Linked DNA regions of Homo sapiens: regions 1 and 2 are each linked to region 3. Evidence: fine-mapped expression QTL. A gene starts in region 3. Each other region holds a variant in brackets. All regions are shown on one strand. Distances are between the middles of the regions. Region 1 overlaps HACD4 (3-hydroxyacyl-CoA dehydratase 4). Region 2 overlaps IFNB1 (interferon beta 1). Region 3 holds the start of HACD4 (3-hydroxyacyl-CoA dehydratase 4).

Region 1 (8,176 bases), 24 kb after region 3:
ATAAAGATTTGGAAGTCACATTTTATTTTTAAATGAATTCCTGAGATATTTACAAGTATGTCTGTCATTAAAAAACCTAGCTGCTTGCTGCAAAAAATGAGCTTGGCTTTTTAATGAAATTGAAGTCACTAATCAAGGAAATTTGTAACTGTATTTTTCTGAGGAGGGAGTAAGAGTTACTTGCTCTGTTTAGCTTTATAATTATTAATGATCTACCACATGAGACAAGCCAGATTGACATGGTCCCTTTCCCCCATTTAAAAAAAACTCTTCCTTAAATTATAGGAAATAAAATATACAATTTGTACACTTTCCAGTTGTATCTCTGTATTTAATTACACAGTAGTTTCTCCTATTTCCCAGATATTAGCAGAAAATGATGTTTATGAGCTTCTCATCTCCTTTCAGGTACACTTATAGCATGTTATCAGTCATAGGAATATCCTATGCTGTCTTGACATGGCTCAGTCAAACACTATGGATGCCAATTTATCCTTTGTGTGTTCTTGCTGAAGGTAAGAAAAGAGTGACTTGCTGTATTGCTTACTGACAAAAGCCATCTAGTTATAATGGTTCACTAAATTTTTTGATGATTAAATTACTATTTTTGCGAATGCTTAGCTCACTCAGTGTATCCTTACTGGCATATTTCCCTTGATGCAAAGAGGCAAAGTTGAAGAGGGAAGCAGCTCTGCACAGTAGACAAAATACTGGACAAAAAGCAACGGCATCTGAGGCCTTCACTTCATTAACTCACTGTGTGAGTTTTGGGTAACTCATTTAACCTCTCAGAGTCTGCTTATTCACCAAAAAGAAGTTAACATTTAGAGATTCTATGATTTTTAACTTTTAATGCACAGAAATTCAGTCCCCTCTGGTGAGTCTTTCCCACTTACCATTTACTATGTATCCTACCCTCTCTCAGCAACTAGTTAACTCTACCTTGAGATTAATCATCATTTTCTGAGGGAGGCATTCCCTGACTTCCTCAACTGAGTTCCCCTGGGTACAGTATCATGAATCTTTTATAGCAGGGGCCCCCAAACTAGGCCATGATCCCAGTCTGTGGCCCATTAAGAACCAGGCCGCATACCAGGAGGTGAGCAGTAGGCTAGCAGGTGAAGCTTCATCTGTATTTATAGCCACTCACCATTGCCCACATTATCGCCTGAGCTCTACCTCCTGTCAGATCAGTGGAGGCATCAGATTCTTATTGGAGCACAAACCCTGTTGTGAACTGTGCATGTGAGGGATCTAGGTTGTGTGCTCCTTATGAGAATCTAATGCCTGATGATCTTTCACTGTCTCCCATCACCCCCAGATGAAACCATCTAGTTGCAGGAAAATAAGCTCAGGGCTCCCACTGATTCTGCATTATGGTGAGTTGTATAATTATTTTGTTCTTACAATGTAATAATAATACAAATAAAGTACACAATAAATGTTGTGTGCTTGAACCATCCTGAAACCATCCTTCTTCCTCTGGTCTGTGGAAAAACTGTCTTCCACAAAACCAGTAACTGGTGCCAAAAAGGTTGGGGACTGCTGTCTTAACAGGGCTTATATCAGCATAATTACACATTTGTATGATTCTTTGATTAATGTCCATTTCCTTGACTAGACTGTAAGCTCTGGGGGGGGGGGGGGTACCAGGATGTCTGAGTCTGTTTCTTTGCTTCCTTCCTCTCTTTTATGCACCAGTATACATGCTCAATGAACACAGAATGAATTATTGAGTATGAGTAGGCTAATTATATAGCCTAAATATAAACCTAAAACTTAAGATCAAATCATTCAGATCATCAGTCAGCAGAGCTTGAGGATATTTGGAGAATATATGCTTTCTTCTGCAATGGATTTGGTAGACTGGTAAGGAGCATTCTGTAAGACATGATTAAAGTTTTCAAAACTGAAGACATAAAATAAGAAAGCATGTTAAGGTAACTAAGGGAAAAACATAAGGACATGGTGTTTAACATAAAATGATGACGACATTAACAATAACCAAAGTATATAAAAGCCAGTTATAAAACAAAAACACATATTTTCTATCTACTGATGAGCAGATAAAAAGAGCTTGTTACTGTAAATCATGTTAGAATTTCTAAATTTGTTTTGATTCAAAAGGAAGAATTATTAATTTTGGAATAGACTATGCCAAGTGGATCTAAAGAATAATTGTCTTGAAAACAGTAAGAACCTGATTGTCCATTCTTTAAGAATCAAGTAACCTCTCATTGAAATATCAAATACATTATCTTTGTTAAATCATAGTACTGTAGAGAATATAGAAAGGAAATTGGGAGCTGTTGGTCAAAGGGTACAAAGTTTGTTAGGAGGAATACATTTTTGAGATCTAGTGCACAGCAGGGTGACTGTGCTTAATAATGTATATTTCAAAATAGCCAAGAGTACATTTCAAATCTCACCACGAAAAGTAAGCGAGGTGGTAGATATGTTAATTAGCTTGATTTAATCATTCCACATTGTACACATATATCAAAATATCACATTGTGCTTCATATATGTATACAATTATGATTTGCCAATTAAAACTTAATCAAATTTAAAAGAATATATAAAGGAATAAGGTAGAAATATGACTAATCCCTTCCTAGGAATAAGGGGTGGATAAATGTATAGGAAACTTTTGCATTCTTGTTATTCCATAATTCTAATCCTTGTCTTTTCTAGGAAAGCCATGTTCTTATATGGTTGCCATACAACCCTTATTCTTTTATTAACTTCATAAACTTATTCTTGCAATTACAAAATAAGGTATATGCAGAAAATAGTCTAGAGATATATATGACAAAAATGTCAATAATGCTCTGGATGGTGGAATACAGATAATTGTAATTTTATCTTTCTGTGTTTCTGTATATGTTAGATGTCCCAAAGTATAAAACTGCGCAGTTAAATAAACCTACTAAACTTTCGATAACTTTAATTTTAATAATTTTAATAACTATAATTTCCCATCTGACAGATATAAGACAAAAACAAAGCTTATGTAAATAACAAAATCAACTAATTATACTGATAAAATGCTAGAGACATAGGTGCGGCCTGTGTTAACCTTAAACTGCATATTTGGTGTCAGTGGCAGATCCTTCACTGATGCTACTCATACCTCTGCTTGGCTCTAACAGTTGTGAACTCTTGCCTTTTCTTCATCTTTCTCTTTTTAAAAACTTTTTATGTAGGGATAATTTTGACCCATAAGAAATTGCAAAAATAGTGCACCATTCCCATGTACCCTTCACCCAGCTTACCCTAATGATAACATCTTACATCATGTTAGCATATTAACATTTCATTGCATGAAATGTTACCAAAAATATCTATACATGGGATACAATGTTACTGAACTTTAATCTTTTTTTTACCTGATACCAGCCCCCTCCCTCAAAATAATTTAGGCCAGCATTTCTCATAGAGTTCTTCAAAATACTTATTAAATACTACTGGTGGTTAAGAAGGAAGAAGGAGATATTCTAAGGCCAGTTACATTGAGGAAAGGCTAGGTGGTATTTTTTTATTACAGAATTTCTCACAATGTTAATATGTGTTCTACTATGTTAATGTGTGTTGTGAAACTCTAAGAGGAAAATATATGCACCATTTTCCAAGTTCATCTCTCTATCACCCCTATTTGTGGCTAGGTGGACAAATGTATTTTGAGATAACATTTTAAGAAACATTGTAAATTCTTCTGTAGGCAC[A/G]ATAAGGTATACCATGGACAAACATTCAACAAGTCATACTGCTGTAAGCACCTTGCCAACTTAATCATTTCACAGATTTCTATATTAAACTAGGTTTAGCAAAAAGATTCAGCAACTATTACAAAACTGTCATTATCAAATTCAAAATATCCTACAACTATGAAGACATATATACACATCCCTGTAACAACTTAAGGAGGAATACCTTTATGATGCCTTTCTTTTTTAACAGCATTTGCCATCTATCAATCGCTGCCTTATTTTGAATCATTTGGCACTTATTCCACCAAGCTGCCCTTTGACTTATCCATCTATTTCCCATATGTGCTGAAAATATATCTCATGATGCTCTTTATAGGTAAGTGGCTTTTTTGGTCTTGTTTTTGCATTTTTCCTGTACTTTTTGGTTAGTGCTTGCCGTCTACCTTAATATACAGGTTGGTAAACATGGGAGAGACCAAAGAGGAAGCCTGACATCATGAACTAGATCTTGCTAGTAAAGCCCCTGGAGGTTATAATGCTTTTTGCAGGGCATCATGGGATCATATATTTCACTTTCACTGTACAAATAAGAACAATTTTACTATCAGAAAATATAGCTGCATTATGTATGAGATATAGAAGTTTTGACCATGTGCACAGGTATCTACAAATAAAACCTAGATGTCAAACTAAGAAGAATTGGCTATTTCTGATGTTTCCATTTATATCCATTTTGTTTCTTGTTTGTTTGGCTTTTCAAGCTGGCACTTCCTATCAGGCAAATGGGAGTCGGTGTTACAGACTCAAGAGAAATGTATGGAACAAAAACTTACCCTTGAATAAATTTGATCATTAAACCTAATCATTTTCCAGGAAATTGGGGAAAAAACTTTCACTATTAAATTTTTGTTTTCCCAGCTCTAACCTTCACAAATCTCCAAAATAATGATTATCTCTAGAAGGTAACAGATATCAAACATATGAACAACATATAGAGAGAAAAGACAAAAATGTGAAACTTTAGAGGAAGGTGGAGAGAGCTATGCTAAAGAAAGGAAGACAATTCCTTGCATTAAAAAAAGTAGGATGGAAGAGTTTGATTTACCTCTCTTTCTGCATAAAATCTGGACACTTCTTTAAACATTCCTTCTCACATCTCCCTTGCAAGTGTCTTCTCCCTGGATTTGGGCAGCACTCTGACTGTATTTTAAAAGCATTGTTTCTTCCAGAGAAATAGTTAACCTTACTTACTTTTGCAACTTCTTTCTCCATATTAGGTATGTATTTTACCTACAGTCATCTATACTCAGAAAGAAGAGACATCCTCGGAATCTTTCCCATTAAAAAAAAGAAGATGTGAAGTACAGCATTCCAGTGTGACACGAGAAAAGACAGGCTGTGGATTCAGTGCAGTAAATAAAACACAGGAAGTATTCTGGTGGAAAAATACCTTGTATTTGATAAAAATCCATTACATGAAATAACTGCACATACCCCCAAAACTCTAGACATAACAGGCTATGTTTTTCACACATTGTATTTTTAAGACATATATATTCTCCATACCCTGCTTCACCAAAATTCCTGCTTCATTTGGATTTTATACAAGTTATACTTACATTGTATGAAGTCTGATTATTTTCCTGTAAGTTTAATGAGAAATAGGAGATTAGCTGCAATAGATTCAATTAAATTAAGAAACCAAACTTGATAACCTAAATTACATGTATTCTTTTTCACTTCCAAGTTCCCAAATAGATCTGTAGGAGAAGAGGGATGGAAAATATATTCCACAGTTGCCTAGAATAACATATTTCATAGACAGATGTCTGTCTTCAGATCTAATAATACTCACCCTAAACATTAGATATGTTTAGAAAATTAAATATCTTTCCAAGCCCTATGTCTTAGCTCAGGTTGCTATAATAGAACACCATAAACCGAATGGCTTAAACAACAGCAAACGCTTCTCACAGTTCTGGAGGCTGGGAATTCCGCTCAGGATCAAGGCATCAGCTAATGCAGTTTCTGGTGAGGGCCCTCTTCCCAGTTTGCAGATAGATGTCCTTCTTTGTCCTCACATGAGAGAGAGATCAACTCTCTTATGTCTCTTATAATGGCACTAACCCCATTCATGAGGGCTCTACCCTCATGATCTAATTACCTCCCAATGGCCCCACCTCCAAATACCATCATATTGGAGGTTAGGGCTTAACACATGAATTTTGGGGGAACACAAAGATTCACTCCATAGCATTCTGTACCTGGTCCTACAAAATTCATGTCCTCCTCACATGCAAAATACATACATTCCATCTCGACAGCCTCAAAAGTCTTAACTCATTCCTGCATCAACTCTAAAGTCCAAAGTCTCGTCTAAATCAGATGTGGGTGAGATTCAAGGTAGAATTCATCCTGAGGTAAAATTCCTTTCCAGCTTTGAACTTGTGAAATGAAACAAGTTATGTGCTTCCACAGTACAATGGTGGGACACACAAAGGGTGGACATTCCTATTCCCAAAGCAAGAAACAGGAAAAAAGGAAGGTGTAATGGGTCCCCAGCAAGTCCAAAACCTAGCAAGGCAAACACCATGAGATCTTCAGTCTTAGTAATAATCCTCTTTGGCCTGATACTCTGGCTTCAGGACCCAGTGAGGCAGAGGTATTGCCCCCAGGACTATGTTGGAGGAGGATGACCCCCATATCACCAGGCGGAAGCTGTCAGGCCTGTTGAAACCAAGGCAATGACTGCCCCTTTTGAAACTGAGAAGGTACCACTGATGTTCTCTGAATCATTGTTCCGGGTCAGTTTCTCCTTTTCTTGAAGAATAGTGTACATTCACAGCTGAATAGCTCTATGGTCCCAAATTCAAGAAGTCCAACAGTCTTCCCTCATTCTGTCCCATCTCCATTCCTTTCAATACAAACTAGCAGTGTTCCTGCTGGGGTGGCTGATTAGGTCTGTGGTTCACACCCACATAAATCTAATTGGATGACTTGTCTGCTACACTCTTAGTGTTCTCTACCAAACGTGTTTTCTTATCTTTTTGTAATGCAGACAGACTGATAATTTCCCACATCTTTTAAGTTCTGGTTCCGTTTTTGTTAAGAATTCTGTCTTCATTTTTTGTCACATTTTACTTTAAGCAGTCAAGATAAACCGAGGCACTCCTTCAACACTGGTTGGAGATCTCTTCAGTTCAATATCTAATTTCATGGCTCACAATTTTACTTTCCACAAAACACTAGAACATGAACACAATCATCCAAGTTCTTTGGCATATTATAACAAAGATCACCTTTCTTCCAGTTTCCCATAACAGGTTCCTCATTTTCATTTGAGACTTCATCAGAATGGCCTTTATTGTCCATGTCTACCAACATTATCTTCATGGTGATTTACGTGTTCTCTATGAAGATGGAGGCTTTCTCTCCCACCCTCTTCTCTTTGAGCCCTCACCAAAATCACCTCTATCAATCCCTTCATGGCAATACTGGCTTTTTCTAGCAAAAAAACTAGTACCTCAAAACTCTTCCAGTACTCTTCCAGGTACTCTAGTACCTCAAAACTCTTCCAGCTTCTATCTGTTACCTAACGTCAAAGCTGCTTCCACATCTTTATATATTGGTTATAGCATCACCACACTTCTTGGTACTAATTGCTGTCTTAGCTTGGCTGCTATAACAAAATACCATAAACTGGGTGGCTTAGACAACAAATATATTTCTCACAGTTCTGGAGGCAGGGAAGTCCAAGATAAAGGTGCTAGACAATTAAGTTCCTGATGAGGTTCCAAGGTGCTAGCTGATTCTTCTTCATGGTTTGCAGATGAATGCCTTCTTGCTATATGTTCACATGGTGGAGGGAGAAACCATCTCTCCCTTATTTCTTATTGTAAAGGTACTAATCCCATTTATGAAGGTTCCAGCTTCAAATGCCATCACACTGGAGATTAGATTTTCAACATGTGAATTTAATGGGGGACACCAGCATTCAGTCCCTAGTGCTCTGATAGAGTATTCATTAATGTCATGTATTTGTTAACATCTTGTAAGTTATTTGGGCTTTGATGCCTTAAAAGAAGACCCTGGCCAGGCATGCTGGCTCATACCTGTAATCCTAGCACTATGAGAGGCTGAGGTGGGCAGATCAGTTGAGGTCAGGAGTTCAAGACCAGCCTGGCCAACATGGTGAAACCCCATTTCTACTAAAAATACAAAAATTAGCCAGGCATGGTGGCGCATGCCTGTAATCCCAGCTACACGGGAGGCTGGGGGCATGAGAATCGCTTGAGCCCAGGAGATGGAGGTTGCAGTGAGCAGAGATTGAGCCACTGCACTCCAGCCTGGGTGACAGAGTGAGACTCTATCTCAAAAGAGAAGACCCTAATGAAAATAGTAAACCTTTAGCAAATACACAAATGATGCCCCATTCTGTATTCTTTTTAATTTTAAAAATAATGACACAC
Region 2 (8,188 bases), 41 kb before region 3:
TATTTTGGAAAATAAATTATTTTTGGTGCAAAAGTCAACATGGCAGTTTTAATTTCGATTTGATTTATATAACCATCCATATTATAAAATTGCCAAGTACCTATTAGTTGTTCTTTTTAAAATATACCTGCAAAGTAGTATACTTTCTGGCCCCTGCCTTTAAGGAATTTAAAATTCAAGAAAGCCATGTGGAATATATAAGGTAAGAGACAATAAGGGGACCTGAACCTTATGGGGGAATAAATATGGCATGAACTGCTGTGGGATTAAAAGAGAAAAGGAAAGCTGGAGGGTCTGGAACTAAACCTGGGGTTCCCATTCCTCCTACTGTGTGCTCCAGATTCTCTCATCATAAAGTTAGAATTGAGCTGGCCATCAGGAATAGCCAGAGGAATATGTCAGCTTTTGTGTTCTCCCTAACCTTCCCACGTTATTTGGGGGATACTTTGCTCCTCGAAAGATTTTTAAATAATTATGTGCCCCCCACCATCCCTGCAAGCTTAAGGGTGAGAAGTCCCATTTACTTCCATGACACTATTAAGCAGCAATCTCTTTATTCTGCTCATCATGGGACAGCCAAGATGTGTGGGTATCTTAGGGGAGCTGTGGGTCCCTGTCTGCTGGCATGGCACAGGCATCAGAGGAAGAAGAACCTTTTTATACCCTAGCCATCTGGTTAGTTTTCTCCCTAGTTTTTCAAAAAACTAAGCCTGCTTCCAGTCCCCACTGCCTTGTTCATACAGAATTCCAGGAATGTCCTGTCCAGTTTTCTGTTGCTCTGCATTGCGGACGCCACATAGTTCCTAAAGCCAAATGAAAGAGGTGCAGCAGTTTAAGTCCAGTTTCAAACCAAGCAAAAAGCCAGGAAACATAGGAGAAAGGGAAGTTTAGGTGGGATAGAGAGGGCATTAATTTTTCCCAGGGCTTACACCGGGAAAAAAATCAAGCTTTTCTAGGAGCTCTTTGGGCACCTGGTCAGCATGGACTGACTGGTTAGGTTTTTGTCTTTGTACCAAAACTCGGGAACTTGGGTTATAGTGGCTATTACTGCCATTAGCAGTTGCTGTTTACTGAGAAATTCTAATGAAATAGGCACTGTGCTGAGATCCCACATAGATAATCGGATTTAATCTTCTCCACAAGCACCCCTCAGGTAGGCACAAGTACATTATTGCCATTTTACAGGAGAGGAAACTAAATCTCAAAGAAATTTAGTAACTGCCCATGGTCACATAATGATTTCATTCAGTCTCTAGTGAATGGAGATTTTAAAAAGAAGTTCAAAGAGAAGCATCATAAAAGTCTTTATTTGTATCTAGGCATTTTTTCCTAGAGCAGTAAAGAAATCTGAATTCCTTTTAAAAGAAGCAGCTTTCAGGAGAAGTAATCTGTTCATTAAGAGTTCCAGAGAAGCTACTATTGTGTAGACAATGAACTCAGGGCTCCCCCTTCCAGTTCAAAGTGGATAACACACACACGGGCTATGCAAACAAGAAATGTCATCATGGGGGGCCTGCTGCCATTGACTCAAACCAGTCAAGCCCCCCTCAAGCTTCATCCTTCCCCCAGCTCTCCACCCCTGCTCTGCCAAAAGCCCTTCTGTAGCCGAACTCCTCTTTTTCCTGGAGTCAAGGACAAGATCAGCAAGTAGCAATGCGGAGTCCAGGCAGTGTCTAGAGCAGCCAAGAGGAAACTAAAGAAATCTCTCTCAGCAATGGGCCCCTATTGTCCACTGCTTTCTCTGAGCTGAACTGCTAAACTGGCCCAGAAACTGGCAAGTTCTTGAAAAGACCTGCTCTACCTCCGTGTTGGGGCAAGAATGACAGGAGAGAGGCCACTTCTGCAGAATTAGAAATACTGTATCACAGCTTAGCATGTCAACCCATCCAGAATGCCAAAAATAAGTCCATAACCAGTAGAAGATAAGTAACAATTAAAATTAATTCCAATAAAAATGAAGGCAACTAGCCCAAAGGTGCACATTTGCATGTGCTGAACCGATGACTAGGCATGAGGAATAAAGTAAAATAATAATATTACTTTGGCTGGCACCAGAATAAGGTCTTAAGGAAAACACTCTTTGTTTAGAAAAATATCTAATGAGTCTGTAGAAAAATATCTAATGAGGCTTCACTCAATATCTAGTGAGATTTTGAGGTTATGGGTGTGGCAACGGAAAAGACAGTAAAATATCAATAGCATGTTTTGTGTGTCAGCTTTTAAGGAGAAAGGAGACAGACAGAAATCCCCCAAAGCTCTGGAACTGTGACACTACGTGGAACAAGTCAGACAATGAAAATTTTGCTGGTGGGAATGAAAAAAGAATTTTCCAAACAGCGTAGCTCATGTGCAGCATGAAATTGTGTGCGCTGATGTATTGAAACTCTGTCCGACATCATCTCCAAAACTTCAATAAAAATGGCTACCACAAAAAGTCCTCTGCGTAAAACCTCTGTGTACAAATCATAGAAAGTGCCCGGTCTCATGTTTGAACAAACATGGGGTGGCCAGATCTTCATAGATGAACCAAATTAGAAGAAACAGGAGGCAAAACAATGACAACACAGCCACCTTCCCCCTTCCCATATCACACCTTAGGAATCCACAAAGCTGGATTAGGAGATGGAACTGTCTTATCTAGCTCTTGAACAGTAAGAAGGCACTGGTGAACATCTGGGTTACATACAAATATATGAATTTTGCTTAAATATATGAACATGCAGATGCAGGGCAATATCAGCACACATTTGTATAGTCTTTTTTGCAGTCAACAAAGGTGTTATTTAGGCATTTTAGGTGGCATTAAACACGTTCAAGTATTCAGATAACATCTGATCAGGAACTTATTCATAAAATACTCTTAAGAAAATGAAAAGAACATGCCACAGACTGGGAGAAAGTATTTGCAAATCACATATCTGATAGAAGACTCATCTCCAGAATATACTTTTTAAAATCTCTGAAAACTCAATAATAACAAAACCACTAATAAAACAATAAAATACATAATAAATAAAATAATAAAAATGGATAATATATTGGAACAGATGCTTCATCAAAGAAGACATGCAAATAGCAAATTAGTATATTAACATGGTAAAATCTTTCTCAAGGATTGTTGGTGGTGTAGGTCAGATAATGAATGTGAAATGATTTGGTCCCAGGGGAGCCCTTTCCATCATGGGGACCTGCCATAGCTTCTGTCCTTTCTGAGCAAAGTTCACCAGCCCTCTTGGCCAAGCTCTATTTCTGATGCATGAGAGGTCTGCCAAGCACAGACTGTGGGGGCCCTCATCAACATGGATTTCTTCTTGACGGGTTTGGCTGTGGGAAACACAGAGAGAGCCAGCATCTGGTAATAGAGTCAGAAGATGAATGTCACCCAGAGCCATACCTTGTTGACTGCAGACATTTTCTCTAAACACATTGCACTGGTGCTTGCTGAGCCTAAAAAATGAACTGTTTTATGAGTCCTTTTGTTCTCAACATTAATTGTTGCTTTTTAAACATTAGTTTAATTGCCTAAAATTTACTAGGATAGTTTAAGACAAACTCAAAAATTGGACTAGTAGTGCCAGCACAAAATTATACTCTCCTAATTTAGTAGGATCCATTTAACCATTTAACTCGTTAATTGACCTGATGG[A/G]GAGTACTCCAAAAACATGTTCACATCATAGTTATCACCAAATCAGACAATTATGTTTCAGTTATTATTCTGTTTTGACATTCATGTAGAGGGTGTTCCTAGAAAACCTATAACGCATTATTCAAATTATATCCCCCAACAATTAGCCTACGAATTTTTAAAAAAATGGAGCCCACTTCAAAGGACTCTCTTAAGAGGATTAAAAGACAGGTCACAGACTGAGAGAATATATTTGCAAGTCACCTCTCTGATAAAGAAGTTGTATTGATATGTAAAGAATTCTCAAGATTCAGTGATAAGAAAGCAAATAACCCACTAAAAGACAAACAGAAGATTTCAACACATATTTCAGGAAAGAAGGTACAGAGATGGCAAACAAGACAGGAAAGGACCAATAACGTTAACCTTTAATGTAATGCAAATTAAACAACAATAAGACACTGCTACATACTTATTAGAATGGCTGAAGTTAAAAGGACTCACCATATCAAGGATTGGCAAAGATGTGGAGCAACTAGAACTTTCAAAAAGTGGTCCAATGACTTTGGAAAACCATTTTTGCAGTTTTTAAAAAAGGTAATCATATACCTACCACATGATCCAACCAGTCGACTCCCTAGTACTTATCCAAGAGAAAAGAAAGGATTCTTTTCTGTGTATAAACATTCATATACACAGACTTGTATATGAATGTTTGTGGGAGCTTTGTTTGTCCATCACAAATGGATGATTAAAGAAATTGTAGTATATCCATACAATGGAATATTATTCAACAATAAAAAGGAATGAATCATTGATACACACAATAACATGGATGAATCTCCAAAAAAATTATGCTGAATACAAAAGGGCCAGGCACAGTGGCTATGCCTATAATCCCAGCACTTTGGAAGGCTGAGGCAGGCAGATCCCCTGAGGTCAGGAGTTCAAGACCAGCCTGGACAACATGGTGAAACCCCATCTCTGTAAAAATACAAAAATTAGAGGGCAGGATAGCGATTGCCTGTAATCCGAGCTATTCGGGAGGCCAAGGCGGGAGAGTCACTTGAACCCAGGAGGCGGAGGTTGTAGTGAGCGGAGATTGTACCAATGCACTCCAGCCTGGGTGACAGGGCGAGACTCCATCTCAAAAAAAAAAAGAAAAGAAAAGAGACCAAAAAGGAATAAATTTTGTATTGGCCTATTTCTATAAAACTCTAGAAAGGAAAATTAATCTATAATGACAGAAAGCAGATTAGTGGTTACCTGGGGGTGGGGGCAGTAGTACTGAGGAGTGAGATGGAGGGAGAGATTACAAAGCAACACAAAGAAACTTTTGAGAGCGCAAGGACATTTTCACTATCTTGACTGTGTTGATGGTTTCAGGGGTGTATATACATGTTAAAACTTATCACAGTGTCCACTTTAAATATGTACAGTTTATTACATGTCATTGTACTTCACTGAAACCTCTCGAAAAATAAAAAAGTATAAATTTACTGAAAAATAAATAAAATGGAGCCAAAGCATCTTGTTGTGTTCCCTTGTTAAACTCAACATACATTGTTTGATGTCTTAAGATCTCTTTTATAAGACTCCAAGATGAGATTAAATCAACAGGCTCTTAGAAATAAAAAATTATCTTACAGTCTAAGTTCATTGTCAGTTAGAGGTTAGATTGTTAAAAGTTTTTACTTATGGCACATTTGCAATACTCCATATTTTAAATGATAGTCCAAGAAGTGGATCACGATCCCTGCGTGCTAAAACTATGGGGGGAAAAGCCAAGAGCACTTCACACATTGCATATCTGCACCAAGTGCAATACAAGTTACATATTACAAATTCCAGTGCTTAAGGAAATGATTTTTCCCATTTTCATATTGTGGCAAAATATACATAAAATGTAGCATTTAAACCTTTTTTAAGTTACATTTTAAGTTCTGTAACATTAAGTACATTCATATTGTCGTGCAACCATCACCACTATTCATCTCCAGAACTCTTTCATCTTTTTCATTTGCAACTCTGAAGCCATTAAACACCAACTCTTCATTTGTCCTTCTCCAAGCCCCTGGTAACCACCATTCTACTTTCTGTCTCTATGAATTTGACTACTCTTGGTACCTCATATGACTAATTATATAAACTTTGTCCTTTCGTGACTGGCTTATTCTTCTTAGTATAATATAATGTCTTCAGGTTTCATCTATGTTGTTGCATGTTTCTGAATTTCTTTCTGTTTTAAGGCTGTGTGTGTTTGTGTGTGTGTACCACATTTAGTTTATTCATTGGTCCATTGATGCATACTTAGTGTGCTTCCTTTTTTTGGCTATTGTGAATAATGCTGCTATGAATATGGGTATACAAATATCTATTCATGTCCCAGCTTTTACTTCTTGGGCTATATACCCAGATATAAAATTGCTGAATCATGCAGTAATTCCATATTTAATTTCATGAGAAATCATCAAGGCAACTATTTTTAACTTGTGTCTTCATAATGGAAATATTTGCAATGATAGTACAATGCAAACACAACAATAACAGCTACATTTCTTAAGGACTTACTTTCTGCAAGGGATCTGCTGAGGATGAACTAGCTAGCTAGCTAGCTAGCTCGATAGATGATAGTTAGAGAGATGGATGGATGGATGGATAGATAGATAGATAGATAGATAGATAGATAGATAGATAGATAGACAGACCATCTTATTTAATCATCCAGAGAACATCTATGAGGTAAGTATTGTTCTCTCCTTTTTATACATAAGAAAACTGAGGCTCAGTAAGGTTAAGTAACTTGACCAAATCCACAGTAGGTAAAGAACAGAGACATATTTGGAACCAGGGACTATACTCTTAACTACCTGTAATCATCTACTACCACCCAAAATGCTATTTTTACCCAACTACATAGCACAAATATTGCAATTTAGAGAAGGAACAAGAAGCTCTACTGCCCGGCAGCTCATGCACAGCACAACTCCTGGTTTTGCTCCAAGTGGGTGCACTAACGTCCAGTGGCCTGTGGGGATCTTTTGCAGAAAGGACTGCTGTCCTCACTCAAGCAGTTGGTCTCCTTCCATCCCCATGCAGAAGGGAACTCTCTCTCTCTTCCTTTTTCTAAAGAGAATAGCAGGAAATTCCCATTTGCTCCTTTGCCAGACTCTACGGAGAATATTTTCTCCAAAGGTTTTTGTAAGCAACTGTCTGAATCATGAGTCATCGTTTTTCCCTTGGCAAGGCTGCATTTCCTTCTCTTGAGCACTACATTTTTATCCATGTACTAGCAAGACAGCCCTGTGTGCAGTTTCCCTCTCAAGTCTGACACAAGCTGATTTTGTTATCTCACAGGAATGCTTAAAAACTAAAATGGCTTACATTACTTAATGGAAATACACAGCAAATTTCTCTTTCCTTTCACTTTTTAATTTCTTGGCTCATTTTCTTTTTATGAAAGTCCAGAGGTAAAACAAATAACTTTCAAAGCAGAAAATGATTTACTAATCTAGAAATGCATGAATTGAAAGTCTGTGCATTGAAAGTACAAAGTTTTTTTTTTTTTTTTTTTTTTTTTTTTAAGTTTCCTATACTCTGATGGCAAAAACACAGGGCATGAAATAATACAAACCTGAGAGCTACTGTGGGTTCTGCCACTTTGTACCAGTATGGTCTTGGGCAAGTTAAATAAATTAGAAACAATCATACCCCAAACTCTTCAAGATTTCTATGAGAAATAAATGCAAAAAATGGGATGTATGACTTGGTCCAACACAGGGCCTTGTAAATACCACGGGATCTCACTTACATGTAAAATCTAAAAATGTTAATCCCATGGAAACAGAGCATGGAATGATGGTTGCCAGAGCTGGGACAGTTGGGATGGGCAGGAGAGGGCTGGGGAGATGTTGGTCAAAAAATACAAAATTACAGTTACATAGGAGGAATAAGTTCAAAGGATCTATTGTACAGCATGGTGATTGTTAATGATAATATATTGTATTCTTGAAAAATGCTAAGGGAATGGGTGTTAAGTGTTTTCACCACAAAAAATAATAACTATGTGAGATAATGCACTTGTTAGCTAGATTTAACCATTTCACAATGTATGTATAGTTCAAAACCCCATGTTGTATGCAATAAATACATGCCATTTTTATCTGTCAATTTAAAAAATAAATTAAAATAATAAAATGCCATAGAAATATTCAAGGGTTATTAAAATAACTTCTTCCATTATATTTGTTATAAGCCTTATAAATAGTTTAAAGCATGATATATTTTATATTTGGCGAACTGGCTTTAGACCAATTGGTGTCTATCAGGCATATGTGGCACCTTAGCATCTATTAAGGAAGAGTAGGCCACACAAGGGAGGAAAGCAATATTCAATACAGCTTCCTCCCCTCCAGGCTGCAACGGGATCTCTCCTAAACTCCAATATACCTTTGAGTTCCATGGATTATTTTCCTACTATAAGCCACACCCCTGAAATAATAAATGTGGTATGCATGAAAAATTCATTTTCTTTCTGTTTATCTAAATTTGTTCTTATTTCTT
Region 3 (8,188 bases):
TTATTTTCCTTCTATCAGTGATGATTAGTTTCCACTTTCTAGAGCCTTAAATAAGTAGAATCATACAGTATCTATTCTTTTTTTTTCTGGCTTCTGACATTCAGTTTGATTATTTTGAATTTCATCCATGTTATTGCTTGTATCAGTAGTTCACTTCTTTTTACTGCTGAGTTGGATTTCATTGTACAGTTATGCCATAATTTATTTATCCATTCATCTGTTTATGGAAATTTGGGTTGTTTTCAGTTTTTGGCTATTAAAAATAAAGCTGCTTATGAGAATCCCCATTGTGGCACATCTTCACTAACACTTGTGGTGGTTAACTCTTTTTCATCTTAGCCATCTTTATCAGTGTGTAGCGATATCTCATTGTGGTTTTATTTTCATTTCCATAATTACTAATTATTTTGACCATACTTTTATGTTCTTTCTTTGTCTCTTACTTGGTTATGTGTGTTTTCAAATCTTTTGCCTATTTTGGGGGGGTTTATTGTCTTCCAATTATTGAGTTTTGAGAGTTCTGTATATATTTGCAAACAAGTTCTTTATTAGTTATGCGATTTTTAAATATTTTCTTCTACTATATAGCTTCTTTTCACTCACTTGAAAGTGTCTTTTGAAGGCCAGAAGTAGCTAAGAAATGCTTGCTTAGCTATCTAAGAGGGCTTCTTAGATGAAATACCTAAGAAATCTCTACCTAACCCAAGGTCACAAAGAGTTTTATTCTGTGTTTTCTTTGAGGGAGAGGAGTGACCTCTGAAAACTCAAGGTGCTGAAAATAAAAAAGAATTTATTTTGTAGCCAGTCTGTTACTGCCATGAAATATATTTCAAGGTTTTAGCCTCCCAGATGGTGCTCTTTGGGATGAAAACAAATTGAAGCATTTGCCCAAGGAAAACAAAATTGACATGTTCGAATAATTTTAAAATTTCTTCTAAAGATTAGAATATATTAATTCAGTTGTTATCTTGGACTCTGACTTCTTCTGTACCAGTGGATAACTGAAAGTTGAATATACATACTTCAGTAATGTAACTATCACTGAATGTTTTGTTTTGGGTTAAAATTTTGGGAATAGAAAACTCATACTAGATTTAATTCATTCATCCAACATATTTATGGATACTTACTATGCCAAGCACTGTACTAGGGGCTTTTATCCATTTTCATCTATAAATTTTATTATTTGATCTTTCTAATAACTGTGTGCTTTTGGCAAAAGAAACTTCATTTTTAAAGGTTAAAAGTTGTCAAATTCTCACTGTTAGTGAGAGAGAAGCCTCTGAGAATCTATAATCTAGTTAAATAGTCAAGTACCTTGACAACAACAATACCCTAAGATAAATACCAACATAGACATACGTTAGCCTATGTGACTCCCAGAGGGGATCTTTGGGAAGGCTTTTAAAGAATGAATAGAATTTTGACAGGTAAGTACTGGGCTGTGATAAGGGGAGGAGGTAGAATAGAAAAAGTAGACGGGAAATTTTTCACAGAGGCACATTGGCCAGAGAATGCCTGGTGTGGTCATGGAACAGCAGGTTGCTGTGATTTTTGGTAAGGGGATAGGATGGTAGGAGATGTCAGCATGTGACAGGTTTAGGGGCAAGAAGAGATATACTGTAGCAGGCAACGGGGAGTCAGCAAAAGATTTAGACCAGGAGAATGGCTACATCAGAACTGTGTTTTAAGAAATATTTTTGCCATCCTTAAATAATCTATGGCAGTCTGGGTAGAAGGAGGAAAGAGATTGGAGGCAGGGAGGCTGGGGGAGGCCATCTTGATAATGCTGGCAGGACGTGGGCAGGACTGGGAACTGACCAGGGGAAAGGGAGAATTTCACTTTTCATACAAAATGTTCTCTCCTAAGCTCTTTTTGTACTCTTTCCTTGGGAAATAACGTAGAATCAGCTAACTGCTTGATTTGAAAGGATTTTTTATTTTTCGACTGATTGGCTTGTTCTTTTTTGGCAACTAAAAAGGGCCTCTTTTTGTGCAGCAGAAAGATATAACCCAAGACGCTCCAGAAAGTCAACTGAGTTATGATGTAAAGAATGGATGTGAGGGAGGCCAATTACTCCTCACCCAGGTACTGGAAAATAAGGAATGGACAAAGAACACTACTGATTAGTAGGAGATCTGGAAAGGATGGGATCAATCGAATTTGATTGGATGGGGTGCTTAATGATGACTCCCCAATTTAAAATCAAGTGGCTAGAAAAATGGTGGTCTTTCTGTGGGAAATAATGATTTAGGAAGAGAGATAGTATGCTTATTTTAAATAGGTTGAATTGGAAGACGTTCCAAAGATAGTCCAAACAATAGGACTTTCATGAGGAAATATCCAAAAGCTGCTCAAAGGCCAGAGATAGTATTCATAAAAGAAGAAAGGGCTGAAAATAATAGTCAAAAGTTGTCCACATGGAGATAAAGCCATGTGTGGTTGTCTATGCTGAGGGATAACATGGTGACAAATGGATGGTGACTAAGGGCAGACTTTTGAGGAAATACAGCAGGAGAAGAAGACCCATCCAGAGAGACAGAAGGGACATAAGGCAAGAGACGTAGAATATGTAGAACTTCAGGGGTAAATGGCAGACAGACAGAACTGGTAAAATGCAGCAGACCTGTCAATGAGGATGTGGATGCAGGGGCTGTGTTTGGTGACAAAGGATCAATTCTTCTGGGCAGGCTTTCCACCTTCTCCCTCCTGCCCCACTGCAGGCCATCTGGGACTTTACTTTCTCTCTTGCTGCTTAACCTGATCAGAGATAGCATTGATAATGGGTTAGCCACCAGTTTACCCTTTAGATCAAATGTTCTGTAAAAGCAAGGACCGTGGGGCATCATCCTGCAAGGTGATACAGGATAGGGATTCGGCGAAAAATTAACATGCTCGCGGACGGAGCAGTGTCAGGAGAGTCAAACTGTAAGGTATTATGGAACAGGAAGATGGTAGGAAATGAAAGAAGCACCTGATCAGAGAAGGCAGGCAGGGAGTTATTAGAAGATTCCATTGAGAGAGAAACAGAAAGAATACAATGTTTAATTATATGCTAAGAGAGAGTTGTCTATGTCCCTAAAGTGCAGTGAAAGCCAATGGAAAGGAGGGGATGACGATGCAAGAAGAGGCGATGGTTAACTACTGATGCAGTGAGTCTGAGAAGGGACTGGTAAACACAAAGTTGGGGTTAACCTCCGACTGAGGGCAGGGTATGAGAGAAGGTGCAGAGAAATGTAGAGGTGAGAGGTAGGCATAGTGAATGGAATGGACTATGAAAAAAGGAAGCCACGGCCTAATGGGAAACAAACAAGAAATCCCACCAACCTTGAAGTTCTGATACTGCCATTTTATCAATTGTGTGACCTGTGCCAAGTGACTTAACATTTTTTTAATGCCTCAACTTCCCTTTTGGTAAAAATGGGGGCGCTAACTTCCAACTCCAAAACCAGGTGCCATTGTCCCACTTACTTGCAAGTGCCTTCTTAGATGTTTCTGTTTTTGTTTTAACGTTTCCCTTTCTGGGCAGAGGAGCTTGAAGATGGGCTGGATCTTATTAGCAAAGCAGGAGGGTGGGTCATCTGTGTACGGAGACAGTGATGTCATAAGCCTGAGAGATCACGAAGGGGTTGTAGCAGTGCTGGGCATAGGCTAGAGAAATTAACACAACGTGAATAAAGATTTGCAGGCACCAGTGAGAACCCAAGGGAGATTAGAGAGCAGGGAGGCCTGATAGAAGAGGAATCAGGCCCCTAGCTGAAAAAGTGTTGGGGAGGTGTGCTACAAACTTCGTTTTATTTTTATTTATTTTTTGAGACAGGATCTCGCTCTGTTACCCAGGCTGGAGTGTAGCCGCGTGATCTTGGCTCATTGCAGCCTCGACCTCCCAGGCTCAAGCGATCCTCCCACCTCAGCCTCTGGAGTAGCTGGGACCACAGGCCCGCGTCACCATGCCCGACTAATTTTTGTACATTTAGTAGAGACGCGTTTTCGCTATGTTGCCCAGGCTGGTCTCGAACTCCTGGGCTCAAAAGATCCTCCCGCCTCGGCCTCCCAAAGTGCTGGGATTATAGGCATTAGCCACTGCGCCCGGCACAAGCTTCGTGTCTGAACCTGGCTCACCGGTGGGCATTGAGCAGAGCCCACCCTGGAATCCACTCATCTCGGGAGGTTTGGGGATGGGCTTCAGCGAGTTCGGAGGCCCCGGAAATCGCCCAGATGCATTAATTTCCAGAAGGCTTGCAAGGGGGTCTCAACACAAAGATTAGGAAGCTGTAACCAGAGTTTGGTAACCCCACCGGGAACGCGAGCCGCCTCCCAGCCTTGCGCCCTGACGCGCTCTAGCAGTGCTGCAGAAACTTCGAGAACTTCGTTTTCATCTCTTCCCCAACGCACGACCTCGGGCTTTTTCTTTTTGTAAACTGCTGAGTGTGGAGAGGCCCCGCCCTTCCGCGCCCAGCCGCGGGGCCGCCCCTGCCTCCTCCCCGGTACTCCTTCCTGGACCGCGCTGGAAGCCCTGGCGGCGGCGGCCCATGGGGCCCTTGGCGCTGCCCGCCTGGCTGCAGCCCAGGTAGGGCGCTCGGCCGAATCCCGAGGGGAGGGGGCGCGGGTGGAGGGCCTGGAGGCGGGAGCTCCCCTCTGCGGCGGGCGGGCGGGCGGCACCCCCCGCCCGCCAGCAAGGCGCAGCGCTACCGTGCCCAGGCACCCCTTGGAGCTCATGCAGGTATTTGCTAACTTACCCCTCTTGACCACCCTAGGAAGCAGGCTCTGTTATTTTCTCCATTTTACAGTTGAATGGGAAGGACAGGCTGCATGGCTACCCCTGCCCTTGTGAGCCCTCTGCCAGTACTTCCCTCCCCCCAGGAGCCTTCTCTTGACTTTCTCAGACGCAGAGTTGCGGGGTGATTTTTAGATGTAACAGCCGTGGAAACACCTATCACACGTATAGATTTCAGGGCCTAGTTCCGGCGGGGAACAGATTCAGTCATATAGCGGTAGGGCCTGGGGGTGTATATGTTTAACCCACAAGCCAGGTAATTCTGATACAAGCTGAAGGAGGATTTCCTCTTCCCAAACCCTTTAGCAGTTCCTGCCTTTATAGGGGAGGATGTCCCCAAATAAAAATCATTCTGCCTCCCAGCTTATTTTCCTTGTTTCTAGGAGGTTTCACATCTTCAAGGAGGAGTAAATCTTGACCACACTGGCAGGGCCACTCCCGTCACTCTTCTGAACTCCCAGGGAACATTTCAAACAGTGCTTTTCCTAACTCCCTCAAACCATCTATCTGTCAATCTTCTCTTAGTCATCTCCCCAGCAACTCACAACACATTGTTAAACCCAGCTTGACTTCCCTCTTCTGGTATGAGCAACTAAACTGCTTTCGATATGTATCTGATGAAGGAAACTATCTACCCTTGCAAAATGTTAATAGGCAGTGGCAAGATGTTAATACTAACCTCAATCACATAATGTGTTCAAAAGTCAGGTGTGTCCAATTACTGAATTACCCAACATTTGGATTACTCCCATCCCTACCCCCCTTCAGAACTAAAACACTGTGTCTCAAGTTCTGCACTTAGCAAGCTGAGCTACTGGAACACATAGTGACATGTCAACCACTCTGCACACATGGATTTTTTGTTGTTGTTGTTGTTTTGTTTTTTATTTTTTATTTATTTTTGAGAACAGAGTTTTGATCTGTCGCCCAGGCTGGAGTGCAGTGGCGCTGTCTCGGTTCACTGCAGCCTCTACCTCCCAGGTTCAAGTGATTGTCCTGCCTCAGCCTCCTGAGCAGCTAGGTAGCTGGGATTACAGGCATACGTTACCACATCCGGCTTTTTTTTTTTTTTTTTTGTAAGTTGCCATGTTGGCCAGGCTGGTCTTGAACTTCTGGCCTCAAGTGATCCAACCCGCCTTGGCCTCCCAAAGTGCTGGGATTACATGCCTGAGCCACCGCGCCCAGCCTGTTTTGTTTTTTTAAAGAATATTCAAAGCCACCTTCGCAGTGGTTTCTTTTATTCCTTGGTGAGCAGCAAGGTTAGAACTTTATCAAAGATGAAAGCAGATTTTGAAAAAGCACTATATTTGGTTTTAAGCAAACTCACTATACAGATGGTCCATGACTCACAATTTTTTAAACTTTGTGATGGTGTGAAAATGATATGTATTCATTAGAAACCGTACTTCAAATTTTGGATTTTAATCTTTCCCCAGGCTAGCGATGTGCAGGTATGATATCCTTTCATGATGCTGGGCCGCGGCATCAGGCCGCAGCTCCCAGTCGGCCGCATGATCAGGAAGGTAAACAACCGGTACTCCACAGTGCACTGTGTTGCCAGATGATTCCACCCAACTGTAAGCTAATGTAGGTGTTCTGAGCAAGTTTAAGGTAGACTAGGCTAAGCTGTGATGTTCTGTAGATCAGTTGTATTACATGCATTTTCAACTTATGATATTTTCAGTTTATGATATTTTCAGCTGATGGGGTGTACCAGGACGTAACTTCATCATAAGTGAAGAAGCATCTGTATTTACTTTAGCGGGTAGTGTAGGTTATGGCTCCCTTCAAAATCTGATATGTACTTGGGGGTAACCAGATAAAAGACTGATATGAAACAGTTTTCTTTTGCTTTCTCAGGTTGGCCAGTACATTAAAGGGCATGTGTACAGTGATGAAAGGATGATTATAAAAGAAGTGTTTAATGGTATTTTCCTGTATTTATAGGTATAGGAAGAATGCGTATCTTTTCATCTATTACTTAATCCAGTTCTGTGGCCACTCTTGGATATTTACAAATATGACAGTCAGATTCTTTTCATTTGGAAAAGGTAAAACTCCGAAACAGTTTTTTTATTTTTAACTTTTAATCCTTGTTTTCACCTCATCCTGCTTATATTAAATTTCTACACACCTCAACCTTCTAATATCCTTCTCTAAAATTTGTATTTTTTAGCAACCATGTTTATTGCAAAACCTTCTTGGGGAAGGGGGAAGGTGGGATAAGTAAGGGAAAGGGATTTGGCTTCCCCCTGAGTTGGCAGTTTGCCTCAAAAAAGAGATGGATGGCACTGAGGTGGTATCATTTCATTGTTCCTTTTCCATTCTGTACCAAACCTTAGCAGATTTCTAGTGTTTTGAGGAAATCTCAGCATAACATTTTATGCAGAGAAATCAGGAATGAATCAAATTCTTCCAGTGTTTGTATTATTCCCCAGGTTTGAGGTAACTGGAGACTACTAGTAAGTGAAATACAAATTTTATATTCCCCAAGCCTCTATTTGGTCCCTTTAAGAAGTAATATGTAAATGACACACTTTGTAGAGGGCTAACCACTTATATAGGAGTCAGCATTAATGGTTTAAGTCATAAACTTCCTCTAGTTTCCTGAAAAGTAAAGTCACTGTTGGGTGACTAAATGACTATCAAAATAACATTCTCTTCATGTTCCATCCGCACGTGGGTAAGTGTCCTCACAGTTTACAACTGTTGAGTGACTTGACAATCTAAGCAACTGCTGGCTTCAGCTAAAAACAAATGTTTAGAATGTAGCTGGGAAAAGTCATGCTGTGCTCATCATTTCAGACGTGTGTATCATAAGGAAGTTATTCTACTTGCAGGGTCCCATAAGCTATTTTATGTTGCTTTTTCTTACTGAAAATCTACAGATATAGTCTCGCCTTTGTTAAGGACCTCCAAAGATATAACCTAAAGCTTGAGTTTCAACTACAAATGTTGAGAGTTTTCAAGCACAGGAAAACACAGGTGATGGGAAAACTTCTTTTATATTTTTATTAAAAAGCCATCACTTCTAGCCCTTTGAGGTTTGCTGAGGCAGTGCAGGCATATTACATGTCATTGGCAACACAAGCCATGGACTGGCTTATGCTGTCTCACCTTTCCAGTGAGAAAAGTTGCCTTAGTCATCAAGTATTTCTTTTTCTTTTCTTTCTTTTTTTTTCTTTTCTTTTTTCTTTTTTTTTTTTTTTTGAGATGGAGTTTCCCTCTTGTCGCCCAGGCTGGAGTGCAATGGTACGATGTCACCTCACTGCAACCTCTGTCTCCCAGGTTCAAGTGATTCTCCTGCCTCAGTTCCCTGAGTAGCTGGGATTACAGGTGCCCGCCACCATGCCTGGCTAATTTTTGTATTTTCAGTAGACACGGGGTTTCACCACATTGGCCAGGCTGGT

Evidence for each region. PIP is the estimated chance that this variant, and not a neighbour inherited with it, causes the effect.
Region 1: its variant is the best candidate, but not a certain one, in a credible set for the expression of HACD4 in CD4 T cells (BLUEPRINT, PIP 0.73).
Region 2: its variant is the best candidate, but not a certain one, in a credible set for the expression of HACD4 in whole blood (INTERVAL, PIP 0.88).

Annotation. Positions count from the first base shown.
Region 1 is chr9:21,003,928-21,012,103 of GRCh38, reverse strand. HACD4 (3-hydroxyacyl-CoA dehydratase 4) reads left to right here. Exons shown (of 7, transcript NM_001010915.5): 5 at 409-515; 6 at 3,958-4,083; 7 at 4,985-8,176. The coding sequence ends at 5,067. Among named protein-coding and RNA genes, the nearest start is that of HACD4, 24 kb to the left of the region's middle. The variant A/G (reference allele first, on the strand shown) is at 3,726.
Region 2 is chr9:21,068,954-21,077,141 of GRCh38, reverse strand. IFNB1 (interferon beta 1) reads left to right here. Exons shown (of 1, transcript NM_002176.4): 1 at 1-38. Among named protein-coding and RNA genes, the nearest start is that of IFNB1, 4.9 kb to the left of the region's middle. The variant A/G (reference allele first, on the strand shown) is at 3,647.
Region 3 is chr9:21,027,936-21,036,123 of GRCh38, reverse strand. HACD4 (3-hydroxyacyl-CoA dehydratase 4) reads left to right here and starts at 4,484. Exons shown (of 7, transcript NM_001010915.5): 1 at 4,484-4,571; 2 at 6,726-6,829. The coding sequence starts at 4,534. LOC105375989 (a long non-coding RNA gene) reads right to left here and starts at 4,482. Exons shown (of 3, transcript XR_007061435.1): 1 at 4,124-4,482; 2 at 3,473-3,652; 3 at 2,205-2,761. RefSeq lists an enhancer at 4,145-4,705 and a silencer at 4,349-4,708.